Homo sapiens: one gene and its partners. The protein of the gene in region 1 purifies or fractionates together with the protein of each later gene. This does not show direct contact. Each region holds a gene or a part of one and is shown in the gene's direction. Other genes may lie near its edges. The genes, in order: PCP4, CREG1, ACP3, NUDT3, ACAA2, RAB27A and PM20D1.

Region 1 (3,500 bases):
GATAACAATTGCTTTTTTCTTTTATTTTTTGCCTTTAGCGACAAGGTGCTGGGGCAACCAATGGAAAAGACAAGACATCTGGTGAAAATGGTAAGAGGACATGAATAGTCCAAGTTCTTTCTCTTTTGCCATCTGCAGCCCTGGGTATGCAGCAGGTGCGGATCATACATCCCATCCCAAACAGCTTACTATATGTGTCTGCGCTTCAGCTTACAGAGGATTTTAGCAATTCACAGTGAGCACTGAGGTCTGGTTTTATGAAGAAAACTGAGCTAGCTAAATGCCGTGATAAGAAGTTTCCCTTCCATAGGAGGACTCCCATTTTGGGCAACATGGTAATTACAATGCAAATCTAGTTCTCTGCTTTCTTCATTAGGGTGGGTGAGAATCATCCAAGTTGTTGTGAGGATAAAATGAGATCAAACGAGATAAGTGATTTGAAAACTGTGAAGTACACAACTTCTGAAATGATGTTTTAAAACTTGCTTCAGCCCTCCGGAGCACACACAATGCGGTGCTGGTCCACTGGAAGGTGCTGAGTCAGTGAATGTCACTGCAGCGATTCACCAGCAAATAAAAATGATAGCAGTGACAGGAACATTGCATCCTGCCTCTTCATGGGCCCATCTCAACCATGACCCTAAATTGTAGGAATGATCATCATATTTTTATGGATCAGGAAATGGAGGCTTGGCATTGGGGTGAGATTTAGCTAGAAATGGGAAGTGCATGGATCCTGAAGGAAATAGAGCCAGTTGGAACCCCAGGTCTCTAACTTTAGCAATTGACATAAGAACAAGCATAATAATAAAAAATACCCAGTGGTATGCACCAAGGGCCACAGCATAGTTCCGGTGAGGTGAGACTCTGGGTGTTCTTCCTTTCTGTTAACTCAAGATGAACTCTCCTTTTATGGAAAATGACTCTTGCTTCCAACTAGATGAAATTGATGCTAGTGTCCATCAATCAGATTGTGGATAATGCCAATCTCAAATACCATCGGTTAAAATTCCCTGGGGCCTCACAACCCCTTTGGAGCCTCTGTGGTGGGTCTGAGCTGAGCAAGACTCAAGTATGAGAATGTTGCTCTGCGTCTGCAGCCTGCCAATATGCCCACCCATTTAGGGCAGTCCTATTGGGCAGGGTGAGTGCAGTGTTCCCTGGGTAAAGGGGTCATCATATCAATAAGTAGAGAGGTGGGGGCTCCACAATGTCCTAATTGGAGCTAGGGGGCTGGGAGAAGAAGGAAACAAGGTTTTCCATGAGGCCAATGGCTCTTCCTTTGCTGCCCAGGGCTTTTCCTGTCTCCTGTGTGTGAGTTGGGGTGGGTGTGTGGGGTACTGGCAAGGAAGGCAGGAAGCAGAGGAAGGAGCAAAGGATGGGGCTTAAAAGGGAGGAGCAATATTGTAGTTGCCTATATGAGGAAGGACCCACTGCCTGCCATAGGGGAGCATAGGGCGCTGTGAGCCTCCACTGATTTTCCCAGTTCATACATTCGTAGCCATCTGTTCATGCAAGTTCCTTTCCACTGAACCTCACAACCTTAGAATTAGAGTTTTACAGTCAGAAGACTTCTCAGAGATCCTCTATTGTCGTGATTCTCAACTTTTTTTTGAGACAGAGTTTCACTCTTGTTGCCCAGGCTGGAGTGCAATGGGACAATCTCGGCTCACTGCAACGTCTGCCTCCAGGGTTCAAGTGATTCTCCTGCCTCAGCCTCTTGAGTAGCTGGGATTACAGGCACCCACCACCACGCCTGGCTAATTTTTGTATTTTTAGTAGAGACAGGATTTCACCATGTTGGCCAGGCTGGTCTCGAACTCCTGAACTCAGCTGATCCACCCGCCTCGGCCCCCCAAAGTGGTGGGATTACAGGTGTGAGCCACTGCACCCAGCCAACATTTTTGTTCTCACAACTCCTTTCCATTTTAAAGAATTCTTGAGGACCCCAAAGAACTTTTGTTTATGTTGGTGATATCTATTGATGTTTGTCATGCTGGAACCCTACTGACTCTTATAGAGATGGTACTGAAGAAAAGACCTGGAGCCAGTGAACAAGACATAGGATTTATTGAGGGGAGTTACCTATAGGGCAGTCCAGTGGCGGTGGGCTGGATAAAAGAACCACAGCTGCCTGTAACAAGCATGCAGTTTACACAGCGTTTTCACTTAGCACCCTCCCTCTAGCAACTTCTACTTGGCAATCTACATTCATTCCAAAACAAATGTCCCCAATCCCCTGTATGGCCTGCATCCCATGGGATGGGCTGGGAATTCAGATGTTCCTCATAGATAAGAATGAATCTCTATACTGGCCACTCCCAGATTCCTTAGCTCGGAACTCGACTCCAAGCACACATTCTTCTTAGACCATAGGGTCATTCTCAGGGTATGCTTAAGTTACGCTATTGATATCAGGTGTATCTGCCATACACTGTCTCCTATATTAGAAATTAAAATGGAGAAAGTTTTAAATGGTTTTTCTTATTAATTTATTAAAAATAAAATAATAAACCCACTACATGTGAATGTAAGTAACATTTTAAAAAATGAAAAGTCATTATATTTTCCAAAATGGAAAAGGATATTTAGTAAAAAGTGGCAATTTTACATTTCTGCAACTCTCTTTAAAGTCTGGTTTGACAGAGGACAGCTGGATTTTCATACTGGCTTCTGTGTTCAATCTGTTATATCATGTGATGTGTAGCCTATGGAAAATTCCACTGCTCACTTGTGAGAGTATGAGATTTAAAAGAGCAAATAATATCCTTTAAGATCAAACTCTTACCTTTTATAATAATAATATCTTTTATAAGACCAAAAATGTTTTTGATCTTTTGGGCTCCCTTAAAGGATGTAGGCACCCCCCAGGGTACCTGGTTCACACTTTGGGAACTACTGCTCAGCATGTCTCATGTCATGCCTTGAGGAGCCTGAAGACCAGGCACATGGTGACGAAGCCAGGACTAGGTCCTATGTGTTCGATGTCTCTGCCCCTTGGCTTTATCTTGACATCCTATTGGTCTTTCAAACCATGCTGACATGCTCAGTGCTTTGCACCAAAGGGAATTACCGGCTACTATAAGTGATGCCATTTTCTGCCATTCAAAGACATGGAATTTCTTTTAGCTGAAAACCAGTCCACACCAGTGGAAACTGAGTGAGGTTTTTTATGGAGGTATAAAAATTAATTAAATGGAAATATTCCTGATGCTATGAATAAGGCTTTTCATTAGATAATTCTAGATATTAAATGATAGTCACTTTTGGGTAGAAAAGTGAATTTGAGATTATTTTACAGTTACTGGATAATGGCAATGTATAAATGTAAATTATTATTAACATGCTATACTTTAATTTCAGCTAAAACTGCCTATATATGATATTTGTACGTGATACTTTATTATAATTTAAAGTCTGTGCTTTTGCCTTTAAAAAGGAGCAAAGACAAAAACTGGAACAGCCCAAGAAAGATGAGGGTAAAAACTTCTAGAAGTAAT
Region 2 (3,940 bases), on another chromosome or scaffold:
ATTTACCCTGATATGACTATTATGCATTGTATGCCTGTAGCAAAATATCTCATGTACCCCATAAATGTATACACCTACTATGTACCCACAAAAATTAAAAATTTTAAAATAAGTAAATAAAAAGTTTTTTAAAGGTCTTGAACTTTCGGGCTTCTGCCTAACTTTACTACTAGTGTAAGTGGGCCCCTTGAGATTTCAGCACCCCAGCATTTGTTAGTGACTGAAATAATGAAAATTCTGATCAGGCCCTTGCTTGCACATGTTGACAACTCTCTTTTTGCCCAATATCCCTTGTTCCTACAACATAATCATAAACTGCTGATGTACTGTTTCTTTATCAAGCAGGAGGAGATAATAACTTCAGGGTTACGAAAAAGTTTGCAGGAGGAATAAGTCCTTTGAAGTACTTTGAGGCCAGCTTCTGTCGCCCAGAAGTCTGATTGTTCAAGGAATTATCTGAGACTGAAGAAACACAGACTTTTTCCCTCGATTCCCTGAAACTCCCCCTCCCTGACTCGCTGGCCGCATAAACACTCTCTGCTTCTTCTTTTTGTTAGGGCGGATTTGAGAGATCTTGCCCTCCCGCCTTCTCGCTTTGGCCAAATCGAATAAACTTTTATCTCCAAGCACCTATATGTCAGTGTTTGGCATCAGCTACACATGGGGTACACGAGCCTGAGTCTGGGCTTCTACAACGCTGGGACCCTCGCTGTTCTTTGGAGCTGATGGTAAATTCAACAGAAAAGAGGCGCATGGGTAGAAAATGCAGCATTTCCTCTCAGATGCCAGATATTCATCTCCAAAGGTATTAAAAGGAGGGGGTGTGTGCCTGTGTAAAGAGGCTGGTCTTTTCCTAGCAGTACGATTTGGGCAAGTTGCTTGATTTCTTCAAGCCTTTCTTTTTCCGCCTGTCAAACAAAACAAAACAAATATCCCGTTTAGGACAAATTCACAATCCTTAAAGAGGGCAGGCAGAGCGATTGGAATGCAGATGAACCAATCCCTTCTCCTGCAGGTTGCGGAGCTGCAGAGGGACCCCGCCCCCTGCATTGTGCTTAGCTCTGATTGGCGCCTCGCGGAGGGGGCGGGGCCTGGGCGCGCCGAGCTCCGGCTGGGTCCCTGCAGGTCTTGGGGCCCGGGACTCTTCCTGGAGACACCGCCATGGCCGGGCTATCCCGCGGGTCCGCGCGCGCACTGCTCGCCGCCCTGCTGGCGTCGACGCTGTTGGCGCTGCTCGTGTCGCCCGCGCGGGGTCGCGGCGGCCGGGACCACGGGGACTGGGACGAGGCCTCCCGGCTGCCGCCGCTACCACCCCGCGAGGACGCGGCGCGCGTGGCCCGCTTCGTGACGCACGTCTCCGACTGGGGCGCTCTGGCCACCATCTCCACGCTGGAGGCGGTGCGCGGCCGGCCCTTCGCCGACGTCCTCTCGCTCAGCGACGGGCCCCCGGGCGCGGGCAGCGGCGTGCCCTATTTCTACCTGAGCCCGCTGCAGCTCTCCGTGAGCAACCTGCAGGTGAGCTGGGGCCCGCGGCTTCCCCAGGCGGGCTGTGGGCGGGGCGGCCACAGAGCGAGCCTTCACTCTCCCCAGAATTCTTCCCGGGAAGTGGAGCGTGGCTCGAACGGCTGTTGCTTCTCTGCCGCGCAGGCAGGTAGGTGGGCGTTGCAGCGTCCCAGATGTTGGGCAGCTGGGTACCAGGAATTTCCCACAAGCCTCCGCCACTGGGCCACGCACCTGGGGTAAATTCTCTGCCAGCAGCCCGAGGACTTCTCATCCGTGAGTGGTTCTCAGTCGTCTTGGGGCCCAGTGTCTCTATTAACTGTGCTCCTATTCTCTTTTTTTTTTTTTTTCCCTTTGAGACAGAATCTCACTTTGTGGCCCAGGCTGGAGTGCAGTGGCGCTATCTCAGCTTACTGCAACCTCTGCCTCCCAGGTTCAAGCGATTCTCGTGCCTCAGCCTACCGAGTAGCTGGGATTACAGGTGCGTGCCACCACACCCGGCTAATTTTTGTATTTTTAGTAGAGGCGGGGTTTCACCATGTTGGCCAGGCTGGTCTCAAACTCCTGACCTCACGTGATCCACCCATCTCAGCCTCCCAAAGTGCTGGGATTACAGGCGTGAACCACCGCGCCCTGCCTGGGCTCCTATTCTTAAAGGTTTTACAGGGCATAGAGATTGTTAGGTACTTAAGCACTTTAATATGTGACTTCAGGGTTTCTCACTCTCTTACCCTTCCTGAATTAAGCTTTTCCCTCCTGCAGCAAGACGCTAACGTACAATATCATGGACGATTACAATGATTACTGCAGTCTTTAGGCCTCCACAGGCATAGTGGCTCCTCAGTAAGATGCAGAGCTGATTGAAGGTGTATCTCTTCCTCGCCCTTTGCCCACCTTCTGGTGCAGGGCCACACTTACAACTCTGATGGATCTCTGCTGTCTCAGGGATGGGGTCACAGACACCCAGCTTGGGAGGCCGGAGACACACAGAGTCCAGGAATGGAGCCTGATTTGATGGAGGGTCTTTTTGACAAAGCTCTCACATTTGAGTTCAACTCTGAAAGTACAACATTGTTGATAAAGACAGGATGCAAGAAACTGATGCTTGATTAATCACTTTTCCATTTGCCTTCCATTCGTTGTCTCTTCTATTAATTCTTTGAAGTAGGTATTATATACCCCATTCTGCAGATGAAGAACTTGAGGCCTACCTAGGTTAAGTAACTTGTTTAAAGCCAGCGGGCAAACCCCTAGTTTCATCTCAGGTTCATCTTTCTTCAAACCACCTATCACAGGCTGGTGGCCCATCAGCTGAATATGTCCCACAGACCGGTTTGGCCTACACAAAGTTCTGTTTTGTTTTTAATAAATTTGAATTTGTTACCAACATTTTAAAATTTAGATTTTACTTTAAAATGTAAATCTCTAACTTTTCTTGAAAAATGGGAAGATCCAGTGACACTGTGGGCCTGCACTCTTTGAGCAAAAACAGAAGCAGTGCCCTCTTTTAGCTAAGGCAGATACACCCCAGTTCACCATTTTCTTATTCCCAGCCCATTCCACACCTTTAGGCGTTTGCTCAAAACAAACTCACTCCACTCCATCAGTGGTGCTCAACTTTGACTGCAAATCATAGTCACCTAAGAAGGCTTTAAAAATGGGATGCCAAGGTATTTTATTGAAAGCACATTTTATTTTAAGACAACACCCCTTCCCGCCTCCCCACAAACCACTCCCTGATGATTCTAATGGGGGAGGAGGGAGATTGACCAATACATAATCATATTTAAATTTGTGAGGTGACTAGGGAGTTGCTGGTATTATTGTCCCCATTTAGGAAGTGAGGAAACACAGACTCAGAGGTGCAGGGACTTACCCTGTGACCAGTCAGCTAATGGCTGTCAGGTAGGACATTAGCCCAGGTCTTTCATGTTTCTAGAAATAGACAGGGCAGTGGCAAGGAACCTACCCAGGGCTTTAGGTTTCCATGATGGCAGTGAAAAGAAGTGGCCACATTAGAATTTGTCTGACTTGATTCCATCAATTAGCAGGTCAAAGTTTCTGCTTTTTTCTTTTCCTCCTCCTGACCTCCAGGGTGCTCTGCATTTCTTCTCATTGACAGGGGGTGAAATCGTTCAGAAGGAACAAAAAGACCTAGGTTTGGGACCATTTCTCATGTGTAAAATACCTGTCCTCTGTAACTTAGAGATATGTTGTGAGCTTCAAACGTACTTACCACTGGGCTGTTTCTTTTGTATGTCTCTTTCTTTGTGGCATTTTTGTATAGTAAATGTCTGTAGGACAGTGTTGCTGATGTTAGCTTATAGTGGGACCGTGTTTGGCTGCAGAGCCAGTGAGTCTGAAGGGAAATCTTGGGGTTTGATTATTTGCACCAAGACCTCTTACTATTAGCCTCCCTTCCATTTTGGCATTCTTTTCT
Region 3 (3,500 bases), on another chromosome or scaffold:
GGGAGGCTGAGGCATGAGAATCACTTGAACCTGGGAGGCAGAGGCTACAGCGAGCCAAGATGGTGCCATTGCACTCCAGCCTAGATGACAGAGCAAGACTCAGTCTCGAAAAAAAAAAAAAAGTTATACTAGTTGGGCACGGTGGCTCACACCTGTAATCCCAGCACTTTGGAAGGCCGAGGCAAGTGGACCACCTGAGGTCAGGAGTTCAAGACCAGCCTGGCCAACATGGTGAAACTCCATCTCTACTAAAAATAAAAAAATTAGCTGGGCGTGGTGGCAAGCGCCTGTAGTCCCAGCTACTCAGGCGGCTGAGGCAGGAGAATTGCTTGAACCTGGGATTCGCCACTGCACTCCAGCCTGGGCAACAGAGCAAGACACTGTTTCAAAAAAAAAAAAGTTATACCACTATTACTGTAATCATTAAGGGAAGAATACTTCTCATCAGAGTTTGTCTGCAGTAAAGTACTCTTGTCAGCTTTGTGTTCCTTTCTGTCCTATCTTATGTACAAACCGATCTCCATTATGTGTCACCTGCCTTCTAATGGCTGATCATCTTGATTCTTACATTACCTGAAACACAGTGAAAGTGTTAGTGAACTTAGAATAGTGGTTCTTAACTAGAGATTTACCCAGGGAGATTTTTTAAATCCTGATGTCCTGGCCACATCCCAGACTAATTAAATAAAAATCACTAAGGTTGAAAGCCAGTCCTCAGAATCTTTTAAAACTCCTTACGTGATTACAATGGGAAGCCAAAGTTAAAACCAATGAGTTAGAAAAAAAAAAACTATTATAATGAGCAGAAGCAAAACACCCAAGTGACGTTTGTAACATCACTCTCTCACATCTACTTTCAGGTGTTTCGGCATGGAGACCGAAGTCCCATTGACACCTTTCCCACTGACCCCATAAAGGAATCCTCATGGCCACAAGGATTTGGCCAACTCACCCAGGTTGGTTGGACTTTTAGCTAAAGATTGTTGATGAAGCTGGGTGTGGTGGCTCACGCCTGTAATCCCAGCACTTTGGGAGGCCGAGGCAGGCGGATCAACTGAGGTCAGGAGTTCGAGACCAGCCTGGCCAACGTGGTGAAACCCTCTCTCTACTAAAAATACAAAAATTAGCCAGGATTGGTGGTGGGCACCTGTAATCCCAGCTACTCGGGAGTCTGAGGTAGGAGAATCGCTTGAACCTGGGAAGTGGAGGTTGCAGTGAGCCAAGATCGCACCATTGCACTCCAGCCTGGGCAACAAGAGTAAAACTCTATCTCAAAAAAAAAAAAAAAAAAAAAAAGATTCTTGATGAGTCTCAAGGGGAAATGTATATAGAATTGTCTGTTTTGATATTTTTTGCCCTTCTGGCTTTATTTAAATGTAAGAGATGTACATGAACAAAGACTATATGAGCTTAGAAATGCTGAAGAGAGCCAAGTGGTAATCATAAGCCAGGATTTGAATTTCTTAGGCTTCACATGAGAAAGTGAAAAATAGTCTTGTAATCAATAAGCTGAATCAACAGCATTGGGAAACATGATTCCCCAAAGTGCTGATATCAGAATATGATTTCTTGTCAGCTGGATATATTGGGATTTGACCTTCCTTATAAGTGGTCAGTTAAACACAGGGAGCCCTACTTTCTGAAGAGCATCTAAGGAGAAGGTGAACTGGGGAGCAAAGCCATCTTTAGTCACTGTTCCAAAGCCCTATTCCCTTTGCTTGTAAGATTGGATGACTCTTCTGTTTGGAGCCACAAGGCCAGGTGAATTGCTTCTGTCCTGATCTGTTTAAATATATTAATTAAGAAAATGTCACAGAATCTTTAGAGTAGAATGTCTCAAAAACTAATGGGTCTTAATCCTGCCAAAACATTGGGATTATCTGGAGAGGTTTAAAAAATATATTGATGTCTGCCTGGGAGGTTCTTATTTAATTGGTCTAGTATGTGTCCTGGGCATTGGGATTTTTAGAAGCTCCTTGGTGATCAGTTCACTCTAATGTGTAGCCGAGGCTGAGAATTTCTGCCCTGACTATATTTCATAGAGGAGAAAACTCAGGCAGGCTATTTGAGACCAGCATCTTCTGTCTCCCAGGTCAAAGCTCTTCTCACCATAGCCTACCCATCTTCTGTCCCTTTGAATGAAAGAGAGGCTACAAAAATTCAGATTTGCTTGTTAATACCTATGGCTCTGTATAGACTCCTGTTCTGTTGCTATGTTTTCCCATTAAGACCAAAAGATTCTTCTAGGCTGCAGGATCTGAGTTCTTCTTCTGAAGAACCTTGATTACCCATCAGATTCTATTAGGGCAGTATTTCTCAAGCTTCCATGTGCAAATGAATCACTTGGGAATCTTGTCAAAATGTAGATTCTAATTCAGCAGGTCTGATGTGGGACCTGCGATTCTGCATGTCTAACATACTCCCAAGGATGACAATGGCACTGGTACATGGACCACATTTGAAGTGACAAGGTTCTAGGGCTCAGATTCCTACCCTTGTCTAGGTACTTTTTTTTTTTTTTTTTTTTTTGAGATGGAGTCTCACTCTGTCCCCGCAGGCTGGAGTGCAGTGGCTCGATCTCAGCTCACTGCAGCCTCTGCCTCCCAGATTCAAGCAATTCTCGTGCCTCAGCCTCCCAAGTAGCTGGAACTACAGGAGAGCACCACCACGCCTGGCTAATTTTTTATATTTTTAGTAGAGATGGGGTTTCGCCATGTTGCCAAGGCTGGTCTCAAACTCCTGAGCTCAGGCAATCCACCCGCCTTGGCCTCCCAAAGTGCTAGAATTTCAGGCCTGAGCCACCACACCCAGCCTTGTCTAGGTACTTTAAATCTACATAATCATAAGATGATGGCTGTCTAGATCAGTGTCTAGGTACTTTTAATCTGCCTTGTCTAGGTATTTTTAATCTGCATAATCATAAGATGATGGCTGTCTAGATCAGTGGTTTTTAAAGTGTGGTCCCTGGACCAGCAGCATCACCATCACGTGGGAACTTCTCAGTAATGTAAATTCTTCACGCAATACCCAGTGAACCATAAACTTTGGAATTAAAGCCCAGAAGTCTGTGTTTTATTGAGTCCTCCAGGTGATTCTGTGCATGCTAAAGTGTGAAAATCACTGCTTCATACAGACGACTATTTAAAAAGTCAGCTGTAAGAACACAATTAGACCTAAAGTACCTGCTTCTCCGCTACTCAGGTCACGGTATATTATTCCTTTCCCACCTTGTCCCTATCGTAGATGGGAAGTGATTATAGTGGTGGTCAAGCAAATGACAAGTGTGACAAGCAAATGACAAGTGGGACCAAGCAGCAGCCACCGTAACAACCTCCTCTCTGGCTCCCAAAGCTCTAGTAAGGCTCTGGATTAAAGACAAACTTGAATGCTGCATTTCCAAAGCATGGTGCTCTACTACATGCATCTGAATCACTTGGGAGACTTGTTAAAATGCAGATGTCAGGGCCCCACTCAGGAACTAATGAGCTGGAATCTCTGAT
Region 4 (2,746 bases), on another chromosome or scaffold:
CAAGAGGCTTGTGTCCTCCCAAGAACATGAGGGAGTTCAGAAGGGAGCTATAGCTCACAGACAGAAACCTGCCCGCTCACCCCATCCCTCGTGACTGGGAGCATGTTTGCTCAGAATTTTCTAAGAGGACTCTCCCTTCAAAAATCCAATTTGCTCCCAGAATGTTGTTTAGCCTCTGAGAATCTCACTCTTTCATTTCCATCTGTGAATGGACATAGATGTGTTGCTCAGGGATCAGAAACATCAGAGTCCAGGGCCCAGTGGCATGGTGTTGCATTAGTAGTTAGAAAAGTAATTGGTCAGCTCTACTGTAAAAGAAATAAGTATGTAGTACAGTTTTGTAAATGTCAGGTCTGTTCTATTGTTTTGTGATCTGAAGACTGTCAAACTGGTTGATAATCAAAGAAAAGGTTGGTGGTTAGAATAAGTAAAATTTCAGTTAGAAAGATATAGCTTACCAGTTTTCCATGTGCTTAAGGAAGTCAAGAATATTTCAGGTTGTTGAGAACTGTTGTAAAATGGAATTGAAGCTAGTGTCTCTCACCTTCTTAGGTGTATCAGAGAGAGGAAGTGGAAGGCCAGTAGTAGCATCTTCATACTTACTTTTGCCAGCCCAGCCTCCATTTCAAAGACTTTGTCTTCCATCCTATCCAATGACATGGTCAGGGATGGGCTCTGAGGAGGCAGTGAGGCCCCACCTTGGTTTGCTCCACTGTGGTGTGTAGTCTCCAAACAGCTTAAGGGTTTTTAAGTTTTCTCACGATTACCTCCACTCCACTCATCTACTATCAGCATCAGAAAGGTTAACATCCCTGGGACCATTCTACTTATAAAAGAGATGAACTAGTGTGCTTTCTCCCCTTTTCCAGGTGTGCCATCCATATACAATCTCCTCTTGGCCAAGTTCAACAAATGTTTCCAGGGAACCCCGTGGGTTGAGGCAAAGTAGCCAAGATGTATTGAGTTAAGTTTTTCTAGAGGACAAAAGTATTTCTTGTCCCTTTTCCCTCATGCTCATATGTTTTAGCTGAGGCGTAAATGGCCAAGTTGAGTAATATCTGTGGAACTGAGACAGAGAGCCAGGGACCCATGTACCCAGGGACCAGTCCCCTGGGGAATCACACAGTGGCTCAGACTAGACTGCTCTATCCCACCAGAACTCTGCTGCTGTTCATTTCCATCAGGACCACCCAGGAAAGCAAATAAGTTAGCCTTCTCATCATTAGGTCACCTAATCTCTTGGGTTGCAGGATGAGAGCATATATAGATCTCCTGTTTAGAGAGTGTGTTCATAATTGTAGAAAGGGATAGAAAATGGAATAACCAAGAGGCTGTGTCATTTTTTAAGAGGATGGCAAGGATGACCTCAAATGAGCTCAACAAAACTGGGAATCCAAGGAATGGTGCTTGTAGGGAAAGAGAGGTCAGTTGTGGTCCTTAAACCTCTTGGCACCTTGTGCGGGTTATAAAACAAGGAGCTGGAGTAAAATTGCCCTTACCCCCAATCCAAATGCTGTCCAGGATTTAGGAGCTACCCAACCTGTGGTTATATGGTGTTGGTTTCCATTTTTTGTTTGTTTGCTTGTTTCCAAAATAGCCTTGCTTGGTACTGCATGGAAAGTTCAAGCTTTTCTTCTTGCCCGCTCAGGGCTGGCCTCTTCCCCGTGTCTTCACAGCGTCCCTAAGGAAGATTTTTGCAGCACTCTCTGGAGCTGAGGGGAGTGAAATTTGGTCCAGAGAAGGCGGAAGGAAATAGTTTTCCTGTTTCCTTTTCTCGAGGTGGATGTCCTCAGGCTTCCTTCACACCTCCTTCTCATGGGTGCGGCTGGCAGTACAGTCAGGCTGTGGAGGAGGGCTGAGAAGAAAGGGGCACTGGTCCAGCCCCAGGTTTGGTCTGAGACAGGTACACAGCAGATACCATCCCACCTTCCTCTCTAAAGAACAGGCCAGCCACACATATAACCCTTTCCCTACTTTACTAATGTATCCCTTATGTGGTACCAGCAATGGAGGACAGGCAGACTTACCCCCTGCCATCTAGAGAGAATGTTGTTATTACCCGTAAAACTTGACCACCCCCATATCCCACTCCTTTTTGTAAAAACAAATGCTTAAACCTGTGAGCCTGCCGTTCCTTTCTATGTGTTAATCAGTTTCCTTCCATTTGAGCTGTGTGGGAGGGAAGGGCATTGAAATTGTAGGTTGTAATCTTGTGCCAACCAATAAAAACCAGTATTTCACACACATCCCTTTTAGTGTCTGGTCTCTTCTTTCCAGAGGCTTCCCTTGAGTCCTTCATGTCAGCCTTTTGGTTTCCCCCACTCCTCTGCTAGATTCTTGGGAATTGCCCTAGAGGTCAAGGGTGACCCCATGGAAGATTTGGTGTGCAGGGCATTCAGGTGAGAAACGCAGTGGAGAAAGCCAGAGGCTATTAAAATCAGCATGTTGTTGTATCTTGCCGTCCTTGCTACCAGGTGCCGAGACAGAGCCCTGGTTAGACGGTCAGTGCCCACTGCTGAGGAGAGGGCCTGTACCCCTTAGCCAGGGAGGCTTTCTAGGGGACCCAAAGGAGTTGGAAGGGGTAAGAGGTGAGCCACATCCAGAATAAGGAAGCATCACAAGAAGTTGCTTTCTTCTGTGTGGGGTGGAATCAGGAAGGGCGGAGCCATTTTTGAAGCTGTGAGTGGTAGGGCTTGCAGGCCGAGAATGGGTGGGCATCATCAGTGGGAGAGCAGCATTAAGTGAG
Region 5 (3,500 bases), on another chromosome or scaffold:
CCTTCTGTTCCTGGGCCTGAATATTTGCCCTAAAGTACAAAGAATGCTCCTGTGGTAGGATTGTCATTTTTCCTCGGGGCTTGAACAGAGCTGTACATTCCAGATGTCCCACAGTATCAGCTGCCCCCTTCATCTAGAAGTTTGGCTGTCACTTGTATATAGTGATGGGATTAAACAAAGTAACTCGTTGAAGCATCCCAGATGAATAAGTGGGGAGAATAAGTTATTAAGTATCTAGTGGGAACTGGTTTGTTAATCTAACTTACAAGAATAGTGGTTCTCAGTTCCATGATTACCTAATGACTAGCAATCCTTAGCCCTGCAGAATAGCTGCAGACCAAAAAAAAACGGGGAAAGCCATGACTTGAAAAGAATAGTACTGGTTCTGAGGAAATACACAGCTATAGAAAGACAGCACTCCCTGGAACTCCTCAGGGGTGGCAATGGTAGAGGTTGGTGGGTGGAACTTTGAGCCTCTTCAGCTGGAGCAGTCTGGCATTATCTATTACTTGGCATCATATGCAAAAAGAATTCTGATGCTTAAAGAGAAAAAGGTGGAAAACCCATTCAGAGTGCTATTGATGAGTAGCTTGTTGCCCAGAGAGATGCACAAAGTCGCACAGCTATTAGTGACAGGAACCAGGACTAGAAATAAGGTCTCCTTTTCCTAACAAGAATACTAAACCTTCCTGAAGTCCCAGTAAATAACAGTGGTCTGGGAAGAGTCCTTTAAAAATCGAGTTATGGCCTAGCATATTGTTACGGTGGATTCTGAGTTAAAGTGAAAGTACGAGTCATGCTTGCTGTGTTGTTTATGCAGACAAGGAAGTGTGTACAGTGGTCTGAACATTGTCCACCTTTTATGTGTCTGTCACCACTGTTGGCTACTTCATCCCCTCACCAGGCTGGATAACTGATGCTTTACTACTGACTACCCATCTCATTTTCATGATTTCATGCTTTAGACATACAAAGAGAATCTGGAATCAGATCCTGTAGTAAATCAGTAGCTGTAGTAAATCAGTAGCCACATGAAACTGGCATTTTAAATTGAAGTGCATTAACTGGATAGTCCTAATCAATAAGCACGTGGTTTGTTGTCCAAAGAGTATTTTAACTACGTGACAAAATAAATATTATATTTAGGTTTCATTATGCCTTTCTTGTAAAGACTGATTTTCCATTTTATAAGGTAAAATGCTTGTGAAACTTGATGCAGAATATTTGACTACTTGAATTCAGCAGAACATACTACATATTTTTCTTTGTAGACATTTTTGGCAGTTTCATTCTTTAAGAACAAGTCGAGAAGTAGATAATCTTCTCTACCCAAATTTTTTACCTTTTGAGAAAAAATATGGATTTAAATTATGAGCAATATTAAACTCTCATTACATCATCAGAAATCTGGGAGCTAAAGTTTATTTCAGAAGTCTTATTAGATGGAGTTGCATTTCTTAAATTAGGAGTTATGTTTTATTTAAATTTCCTGCCTACCCTTGGAGTTGTAAACATCACCTTACTTCATAAAACCTTCCCTGAAGTGCCTCGTAGTTTCCCATCTCTCTGTGCCCATGTGGAGATACTGCTATTTCTTGTCTTTTATCCAAATGGGCCTGAAAATTCAGAGTGTAGCCACAGTAACTTCTGTGCTGTGAATGCATATGGCTTGGATCCCAAGTAGAGCACTCAGTCTGCCTTGCTCTTTGATATCAATTATAATCTATTAACATAACTAAAATCCCATATATGGACTCCTTTGGCTGTTTTCAATCTTAAAGCCGTTTATGGTAGAACTTTTCATGTAATTCTCTTATCTGCAGTTTGAATGTATAAACAACTTTTCACCTTGGTTCCATTTTATTTTTATTATTATTTTTTTTCTTTTTTAGAGATGGGGTCTTGCTGTGTTGCCCAGGAGGCTAAAGTGATCCTCCCACTTCAGCCTCCCAAAGTACTGAGATTACAGGCATGAGCCACCATGCCTGGGCCCTTTTTCTGCCTCTTTATGGTCACTTCATTTAATAGGTACGGTCAAGGTAGTAAGATTTGTGGCTACTAATAACTGCCGCATTATTTCTTCCTTACTTGGAAAGAAGGAGAAGCTTGATACGTAAATATAAGATGACATTTATTTCTATATTTTTATAGAAGATTTTTATTATTATATAGGTCCTGTCCCTGCTATCAGTGGGGCACTGAAGAAAGCAGGACTGAGTCTTAAGGACATGGATTTGGTAGAGGTAAGTGTTTTTTTTTTTTTTTTTTTTTTTAACAACATGAATAAACCATGTACTTTTATAGCATAAATGACTTTAATTTGGTCTCATTGCTCTTTGAATTTCATTGTAGTTAGCCTTTCCAAATGATGTACATCTAAATAAATAGTACCTTCATTAGATGCCTTGTGTTGATACTTTTCCCCACCTGGTTAACATGCTTTATTTATATTTGAATATTCAAACTGCCTGATTTCTCTTACTCAAGTATAAATTCCTGGGAATTTCTTACTACTTTATAAAACTGTTACATTTTAGACTATTAACATGCCTGTTGAATATTAAAGTGAAAAAATATATGTAAAATAATTGACATAATAGAAAAGCAATATTTAGTGCCAAATCTACAAGTTTCTTGCCCTTCTCGCCAGATAGAGCCCCCTCCCTTAAATGTATCTTTGGCTTTTATACGATAGTTGTAGCTTGATTTGGGATGCACCTATCATAATTTTTGACACTGGAACTTAAATTTATTGAGTGATTTCTTTTTAAATGTTAGTATTAGAACTAAAGTGTCTTAAGCATAATTAAAAGAAGAGGTGGAGAAACATTTAAAGATGGTTATATACATTCCACACTTTTGGAATATTTATTTGAAAATTTTAGGTGATTAAGCATGTGATGCCTGGCATTGGGAAATAACTAATAGAACAAAGGAAATCTATTTAACTTGATAGCGAAGGGGTAGGCACAGGTGTGATTTCCTCTATGATAATCTCTCACACAGGAAACCATGATTTCAGACAAATGGTTTATCTTTAAATCTCTTCCACTTTTAGCAGATCACAGTTCAGAGCCTCAAAGAGGCTGTTTAATTTATTATATTTGTGTCAGCAAATAGGTACCACTAAATTTCTCACTTTAGACCTCACATTTAAAACTATTAAACTATATCAACTTTGGGAAGTTGTTCATAATCATTTGGAAATGTATACATTCTCAAGGACATAACTCAGACCATAGTTTTCCTAGGTTCAAAAGCCTAGTTTCACTACCTATTCTAGGTCTCTTAGTACCTCCTTGAAGATGGCTCTGTATATAGAGTAGAAAGATAATGGTGGATCTAAGCACATATGAGGCACCATCTTGAGAGACCACAAAGTATAGTAGGAAAGAGCACAAGACTGAATTTTATCCCAACTCTGCAAAAGTTACCTTTCTTAGAATGAGTTTCCTTATCTATAAAATTCCTGAATTAAGATCATATGATAATACAGTACT
Region 6 (3,500 bases), on another chromosome or scaffold:
GGAGTGGGGAATGCCAGTAGTGAATGTGATGTTCTGCAGAATGTTGAAGGGAGAAACTTTTATTTATTTATTTTTTAAGGACTTTGAGACTGAAAGTTATTCTAGTGTTGGAGGGGAAGGCAGAAGGTCATGGTGTCACAGTTGCAGATGAGGAAAGATGGCTTTCTCCTTAGACTACATTTCTTGTTGAAAAATCCATTGTTGGCCTGAAGCAGGTAAACCAGTTGTCAGGAAATTAATGACAAAGGTCCTTTAATGGATCATATTCTGTCAGGGGGAAAGGTCCCTGGCTTTTAAGACAGAAGAACATTCCCTTTTGCCCATTCTAGTATTTTATTCTACTACCAGAGAGGCTTATAGAGATTAAGACCCACTGAATAACAGTAGGGCCCTAATGAAATTTTTAGTATTGACGTGTAGTTGATAGAATCTACATATATGTATGTGATTATTTTTGTTGGTTACTTATTGTATAACTTAAAAAATAGATTTGTTGAGATATAATTCACAAAAAAAGGAAATCCATCCATCTAAAGTATAAAATTCGGTGGTTTTTAATATATTCGGAGTTGTGTGGCCATCACAGCCATTCAATTTTAGAATAGTTTCATCACTTTAAAAAGAAACCTCATACCTATTAGCAGGCATTCCTCTTTCTACCTCCCCTTAGCCACCATGAATTTTCTATCAATGGCTTCTGCACACACCATATAAATGGAATAATATATGGCCTTTTGTGTCTGGCTTCTTACATTCAGCCTGATGTTTTCAAGGATCTTCCATGTTGTAGCATGTATCAGGACTTCATTACTTATTATAGCTACATAATATTCTATTGTATTGATACACCATTTTGTTTATCCATTTGTCTGTTGATAGATACTGTTGTTTCTTTTTCTATTTTCTAGTGCATCATTTTAATTCCCTTTTTTGTTATATGTTTTTGAGTTCTTTTTTAAAAATTCCCTTGGGGATTACAATTATCTTAATTTTTCACAATCTAATTTTGATTAATAGCAACTTAATTTTAATACTGTGTAAAACTTTGCTCTTATGTGGCTCTGTTTTCTCCCATATTTTTGTGCCATTATTGCTATACGAATGACATCTTTCTACATTGTGTGCCATCATCAATACAGCTTTACAATTATTGCTGTATGCAGTTAATTTTTTTTTCTTTTTTCTTTTTGAGACAGGGTCTCTCTCTGTTGCTCAGACTGGAGTGCAGTGGTGAGATCTCAGCTCACCGCAACCTCTGTCTCCCAGGTTCAAGTGATTCTCCTGCCTCAGTCTCCCAAGTAGCTAGGATTACAGGCACCCGCCACCACACCCGGCTAATTGTTTATATTTTTAGTAGTAATGGGGTTTTGCCATGTTGGCCAGGCTGGTCTCGAACTCCTGGCCTCAAGTGATCCACCCATCTTAGCCTCCCAAAGTGCTGAGGGATTACAGGCATGAGCTATCACTCCCAGCCTGCAGTTAAATTTTAATCTAGTGGAGGAAAAGGGCTACAAAGAAAAACCACGTTTATACTGTTTTTTATATTTACTATGCAGTTACATTTTTACTGGTGCTTATTATTTCTTTGTGTGGATTTAAGTTACTGTCTAGTTTCCTTTCAGCTTAGTCTTGAGAGTTGTCTGTAGTATTTCTTGTAGGATAGGTCTGCTAGAGATGACTTTTCTCAGTTTTGTCTTAATTTATCCTTTAATTTTAGAGGACCGCTATGTTACTGATTTTTAAGTTCTTTGAATATATTTATAATTCCTGATGTAAAGTCTTTGTCTAATAAGTTTAACATCTGGGCCTCCTCAGGAATAATTTCTATTCGTTGTTTTTTTCCTGCGCATGAGCCATACTTTCCTGTTTCTTTGTGTGTCTTATACGTTTTGCTGAAAACTGGACATTTAAAATAATGTGTCTATTCTAGAAACTCAGATTCTTTCCCCTACCTGGGTTTCTTGTTTTTACTGCATATTTATTTATTTTTGTCGTTGCTGTTTGTTTAATTATGTTTCTGGGATAATTCTGCAAAATCTGTATTCTTTGTATGCAGCTACTGAAGTCTCTGCTCAGTCAACTTAGTGGACAGCTAATGAGTGGAGAGAGTTTATTAAATTCCTTGAACTAATAAGTCTCTTAGCTTTTTCTGAGAGTCTCTGTGTGTTTGTTGGGGTATGTGTTTAATACTACTGCAGGCAGTTTACAACTCTGCCTTAGCTTTTATTTTCTGCCTGAGAAGAACCTCAAAGTCAGTCAGAAGTGAGAGATTAGGACCTTTTTAGATCTTTCCTGGGCATTTGTAGAGCCCTGCCCATGAACATGGCCTTTTAGGTTCCAAGGAATATTTGGGAGCATTATAGAAATCTCATTTCCTATTTTTTTCTTTAAATTTTTTTTTTGTTGTTGTTGTTAGACTTTTGTTAGCCCTAACTGGTATTGCTACCTCTGGTAGCTGTGATGTTAAATAATTACTGCTGATAGTTTTCAACAAATGCCCTTGGGATAGGGCTGTTCTCAAAGAGCAAGCTTTGAGTGAGGTCAAAGAAAGACAAAGCTGGGGCATGGAGCTTTCCAAGGGGCTTCCTGACAATTTTTCTCAGTATGGGACTTTTAGGGAGCTCCAAACCTGTTGTTCCTCTGCTGTCCACAGTGGTGGCTAGGCTGATGTTTTCACAACAACCACATTTGTGCACATGGTTTTTAAGTCTTCTAAAAGCTTGAGTGAGGGGGATGGGAATAGGGCAAGGTAAAAAACACCTCAAAGCTTACTGTTTTTACTGATATTCGGCTGTTTTTCTTGAATAAATGCTCCTTGGAATGTTGCAAGTCTTTGTTAATTCCTAGAGTACTGAAAAAGTTGATTTGGACAATTTTTACCACTGTTTTTGTTGCTATTGTGGAGGAAGAAATTTTTGATGGTCCGTTCTCTGCTGTTCTAGGAGTGTTGTCTATAAAATTCTTTTAAGAGCACTTTTAAAATTTGGGATGGGACAAGGGAAAATTGTTCTACCAAAAATACATCTGCACTCAAATGTTTATTGCAGCACTATTCACAATAGCAAAGTCATGGAACTAACCCTAGGTGCTTATCAGTGGTGGATTGGATAGAGAAAATGTGGTACATATACATCATAGAATACTATGCAGCCATAAAAAAGTGAAATTATGTCTTTTGCAGCAACATGGATAGAGCTGGGGACCATTATCCTCAGTGAATTAATGCAGAAACAGAAAATCAAATGCCACATGCATTCTCACTTATAAGTGGGAACTAAACAATGGGTACGCATGGACATAAAGACAGAAACAGTAGACACTAGGGACTCCAAAAGGGGGAAGGGAGTGGGAGAGGGGCTGAAAAACTACTTATTGGGTACTACATTCACTGTTTGGGTGATGAATTCAATAGATGCTCAAACCCCAGCATTATGCAATCTATCTACGTAACAAGCCTGCACATGTACCCCCTGGTTAAACAAACAAAAAAGATGAGATTG
Region 7 (3,977 bases), on another chromosome or scaffold:
AGGTCGGGAGTTCGAGACCAGCCTGACCAACATGGAGAAACCCCATCTCTACTAAAAATACAAAATTAGCCAGGCATGGTGGTGCATGCCTGTAATCCCAGCTACTTGGGAGGCTGAGGCCAGAGAATTGCTTGAAACTGGGAGGCGGAGGTTGCGGTGAGCCGAGATCGCCCCATTGCACTCCAGCCTGGGCACCGAGAGAGAAAAAAAAAGAAAAGAAAAGAAAAGTAACTACATGGCTGAATTTTTTTTTTTAAGCAAATCTTAAATGAAATGCAAACACCAGGACTGTGAACCTGTAGCTTTGGTCACAGGTAGCAATATGGCCTTACTGGTTGTATAGCACTTACTGAATTTTTCTTGAGAATTCTAAAATTTGAGAGTGATGCCAGATAAAATTGCATCAAGAAATCTGAAAGGAACGATTTATTCTGGCTTCAGGAAATCTGATTTTATATTTCTGTGACATAAGACAGGTTTTCTTTTTTCCAGAATGATCCTCTACTCTGAATAACCATAAAATTTCACTTGTGGAATACATCAAAATTATTTATACATCAAAATTCTCTTAAATATTTTATAGTAATCTTTCTAAAAATCCTTCAGTCTTACTGTACTTGTCTAGAGTTGCAAAAATGTAGTGTTAACATTAATATTAAAAGCACTTTCAATGAAATTTCTAAACAGGAGCCAACCCTCTGAGCTGGTATTTCAAAGCAGTATCTATAAACAGAGCAATTTGTTCCAATTTCAGATGAAATCAAGCTGGGAACCTAGAGAGCTCCCCCGCCCCAGGATCTAGGGAATTGTAGTCAGGTTCTAAGCTTCGGAAAAAACGAGCAGCAGAGTATGGTCTGATAAGCTTCGTGCATTTTATTTTGCTTTTCCTCCTTTATTTGATTTGTTGTCATACAGGAAAGGATTTATGGGTGAGAGATCAAGTGCGGACCAGACATGACTCTAGCCTGGAGCCCGACCTCACCTCTGCTCTGCAGGAACTGCTGGCCTCAGCACGAAAACCCACAACCCTCGAAAGGCCTTAAGGATCCTGGGCGGGGTCATTCTGTCAATTGGTTGTTCCGCTGTCCTAGCGAAGCGATGATTGGTCAGATCTGGATATGGGGTGTGGCTAAGGCTGTTTGCCGGAATAAGAGCAGAGCTAGGGCCAAGAAACGCTAGTCTGGGCGTTTAGGTCAGAACTACCCCGGTAGCCTGACAGCAGGAGCTCGAGAGAAGCATGGCTCAGCGGTGCGTTTGCGTGCTGGCCCTGGTGGCTATGCTGCTCCTAGTTTTCCCTACCGTCTCCAGATCGATGGGCCCGAGGAGCGGGGAGCATCAAAGGGCGTCGCGAATCCCTTCTCAGTTCAGCAAAGAGGAACGCGTCGCGATGAAAGAGGCGCTGAAAGGTGAACCCGGGTCCCCTTCACCCACCTATGCTCATATGTGGGTCCCTCCCTCCCCAGGTCAACCCGTGACTCCCCGCTTCCGCCGCAAAGCATCTGCTACTGCAGCTGGAGCCCCGACACGCACCCCAGCCCGGCCCCAACACCCTTCCCAGCACATCGTGCCCCTGTCTGGGGACGCCACACTTCCCCCATACCTGGCTCCTGGAACTCTGGTGTGCCCTGCCTAACCTGGAAGCTCCAACTTCACCCCTCTTGGCGTGACCACCGTCCATTCTTTCCCCTGCTTGCCTCGAGTATTACACCAGCTTTCATTTGTACATCAATTTTAACCTTTGAAAGTTTGCATGCCTGATAAATTACTGCGGTGTCGTAAAATAAGACAAATGATATTAGTCTTATCTACAAAGGAGAGAAATTGAGGCTTAGGTCAGCTAAATGATCTTCCCCAGGGCCCCACAGCAAAGAGTGGGCAGTGGGTGACAGCATCTAGTGCCTGTCGGACTCGCTGGGATCAGATGGCTCTAAAGAAAGGGAGTGGAGTGTTCCCGGGGTGTGGGATGTTCCTAATTCTCAATCATAATTGAAGAACATGTCTCCTCTAGATCTCTAATCCAGACCAAAAATTCATCCCTGTTCTGAATCTGCATTTTCCAGGAAACAGGAAAGTTTCTGTTGAGTGCTAGATCCTATGGGATGAAATCCTTCTTTACCATTCAGCTTAGCTCCAGTCTTTTCCCTTTCATTAAGTAATGGATTAAGAGAGACTGCCTGCATAAACATATAGAAGCAGATGCAGGGACCAAAAGCTAACCCCAATAGTTGGATATAGATTGTTCATATGCTAGAGTGACAAGCCTGGGAGGCAGAGCAGGGCTTTCCCAAAGCATAAATAATTCTCTAAAAGGCATTAGACAGCCACTCACAGTCTGCACAGAAGAGAACAAAAGCTACATAAGCTAGAATAGGGACCTCATAGCAACACAGCTTGGAACTCTGAGCAGGGGACAGAACACCTGAGATCAGATCCTTGGGTCTGCCCTTGAGTAGGCACTTGAATCTTTCTGAACCTCGGCTTCCCCATCTATCTGGTGGGCTATGCTATTGTAGGGTTGATCCTTAGCAAAACTGATGAAGTTTGTCTTTCAGAGACCCTTCCTGCCTCAGGTGAATTTGTTTGCACTGTGTTCTTGGAGAGCAGTCTAATTCAATATTCTCATGATTCATGCTTTCCCTCCCAGTGGTTTTGTCTTTGATCATGGAACTCTTTAAAACTGTAAAGTCTTAAAGACTCAAAGGGATGAGCCCAGTGAAGGTTCAGGAACTGAGACAACTGAGTAAGGAGGGTGAGATTATTTTAGGACTGAGGAGTTTGTTTGGAGGCTTCTAAATCCACCCCTTCCCAGGCATTATATGCCCAAAAAGCTGGTCTTGGTTGACAGACTAGTGAGACTCTGCATAAGGAATAAGCCTTTACATACAAAAACACACAAGCCTCATTGATGTAGGGACCCAGGACAGTGGGTGCCTTGAGAATGATGAAGCTTGGATTCATCAAAGCAATTGGTGATTTCAGAGGTAGTGAGGCCTTAGGAAGCAATTTATAGTAGCTTCCCTTCAAGACCAGGATCCAAAAATCCACTTCCCTCCAATCTTAGACTGTATTTGCCTTTAAGAACCATATCAGCCTAAACAAACCCAGAAGACATAGGTTTAAATCTATAGTCTGCCTGTTGCTCAGACAGCTCACCTAACCTCTCCAAGCATTTTCCCTCATCTTCGAATTAGAGGAAACAATAGCGCCTACCTCACATTAGTGTTTTGCCCTCTGCAATATGATAATGAAGGCAAAAGAACTTTTTGTGCACAGAGGACTGTAGAAAAAAACAATGACTAATTCATTTTCAATCTTTCATCTCTATTTGACTCTGACAGGTGCCATCCAGATTCCAACAGTGACTTTTAGCTCTGAGAAGTCCAATACTACAGCCCTGGCTGAGTTCGGAAAATACATTCATAAAGGTCAGCTGCAAATCAGGGGCAAGGGGTGGGTGGTAGAAATAGCAATGGAGACACAGTTCTTTTACAAAGTGATAAAGAAGTTTATTTTGCGACTGATCAGAGGACAATCTAATTCCCATAGGCAGAGTAGAGACTGTAGATTTGCTCTTGGAAAAACTAAGCCACCATATGTAGGGCAAAGATTGAGAGTTCATCCAGCCATTGCATTAGAGTACAAACTCTCTCAAATTTTGCCCTACATGTGTGTCATTCAATAAATGTTAAATCATCAAAAAGTAGAACTAGGATTTCCTTCTACTTGTGCAACTGCCCAGAACTATGTTCCATGCTCCTCCCACCCCTACCTCCTTACACACCCAAACACACCGGTACATATACACTCCACGTACTCAGGCCTACCCCAGATTCATTACTAACACATTTCTAGGCCTCTAGGCAGTCAACAACTTTGAGCTATAACATCAGTCTTTTTCCCTCATCCCTACCACCCATTGAGTACAGAGCTGAGGAAGGATGGGTCAGAGGAAAAAAGGATTCTTGGAACTCCTCCCT

The links.
Region 2: the proteins of PCP4 (region 1) and CREG1 purify together in Homo sapiens (affinity purification with mass spectrometry; one large-scale study listed by BioGRID and IntAct). This does not show direct contact.
Region 3: the proteins of PCP4 (region 1) and ACP3 purify together in Homo sapiens (affinity purification with mass spectrometry; one large-scale study listed by BioGRID and IntAct). This does not show direct contact.
Region 4: the proteins of PCP4 (region 1) and NUDT3 purify together in Homo sapiens (co-immunoprecipitation; one large-scale study listed by IntAct). This does not show direct contact.
Region 5: the proteins of PCP4 (region 1) and ACAA2 purify together in Homo sapiens (affinity purification with mass spectrometry; one large-scale study listed by BioGRID and IntAct). This does not show direct contact.
Region 6: the proteins of PCP4 (region 1) and RAB27A purify together in Homo sapiens (affinity purification with mass spectrometry; one large-scale study listed by BioGRID and IntAct). This does not show direct contact.
Region 7: the proteins of PCP4 (region 1) and PM20D1 purify together in Homo sapiens (affinity purification with mass spectrometry; one large-scale study listed by BioGRID and IntAct). This does not show direct contact.

The regions. Positions count from the first base shown.
Region 1 is NC_000021.9:39,898,438-39,901,937, forward strand, and holds part of PCP4 (calmodulin regulator protein PCP4), read left to right. Parts: intron 1-38; coding exon 39-90; intron 91-3,500. UniProt on the Homo sapiens protein: Functions as a modulator of calcium-binding by calmodulin. Thereby, regulates calmodulin activity and the different processes it controls.
Region 2 is NC_000001.11:167,550,963-167,554,902, reverse strand, and holds the start of CREG1 (protein CREG1 precursor), read left to right. Parts: upstream 1-1,140; 5' UTR 1,141-1,161; coding exon 1,162-1,515; intron 1,516-3,940.
Region 3 is NC_000003.12:132,327,407-132,330,906, forward strand, and holds part of ACP3 (prostatic acid phosphatase isoform PAP precursor), read left to right. Parts: intron 1-860; coding exon 861-956; intron 957-3,500. UniProt on the Homo sapiens protein: A non-specific tyrosine phosphatase that dephosphorylates a diverse number of substrates under acidic conditions (pH 4-6) including alkyl, aryl, and acyl orthophosphate monoesters and phosphorylated proteins.
Region 4 is NC_000006.12:34,279,179-34,281,924, reverse strand, and holds the end of NUDT3 (diphosphoinositol polyphosphate phosphohydrolase 1), read left to right. Parts: 3' UTR 1-2,246; downstream 2,247-2,746. UniProt on the Homo sapiens protein: Cleaves a beta-phosphate from the diphosphate groups in PP-InsP5 (diphosphoinositol pentakisphosphate) and [PP]2-InsP4 (bisdiphosphoinositol tetrakisphosphate), suggesting that it may play a role in signal transduction.
Region 5 is NC_000018.10:49,786,034-49,789,533, reverse strand, and holds part of ACAA2 (3-ketoacyl-CoA thiolase, mitochondrial), read left to right. Parts: intron 1-2,172; coding exon 2,173-2,243; intron 2,244-3,500. UniProt on the Homo sapiens protein: In the production of energy from fats, this is one of the enzymes that catalyzes the last step of the mitochondrial beta-oxidation pathway, an aerobic process breaking down fatty acids into acetyl-CoA.
Region 6 is NC_000015.10:55,230,814-55,234,313, reverse strand, and holds part of RAB27A (ras-related protein Rab-27A), read left to right. Parts: intron 1-3,500. UniProt on the Homo sapiens protein: Small GTPase which cycles between active GTP-bound and inactive GDP-bound states. In its active state, binds to a variety of effector proteins to regulate homeostasis of late endocytic pathway, including endosomal positioning, maturation and secretion.
Region 7 is NC_000001.11:205,847,333-205,851,309, reverse strand, and holds the start of PM20D1 (N-fatty-acyl-amino acid synthase/hydrolase PM20D1 precursor), read left to right. Parts: upstream 1-1,177; 5' UTR 1,178-1,237; coding exon 1,238-1,406; intron 1,407-3,338; coding exon 3,339-3,425; intron 3,426-3,977. UniProt on the Homo sapiens protein: Secreted enzyme that regulates the endogenous N-fatty acyl amino acid (NAAs) tissue and circulating levels by functioning as a bidirectional NAA synthase/hydrolase.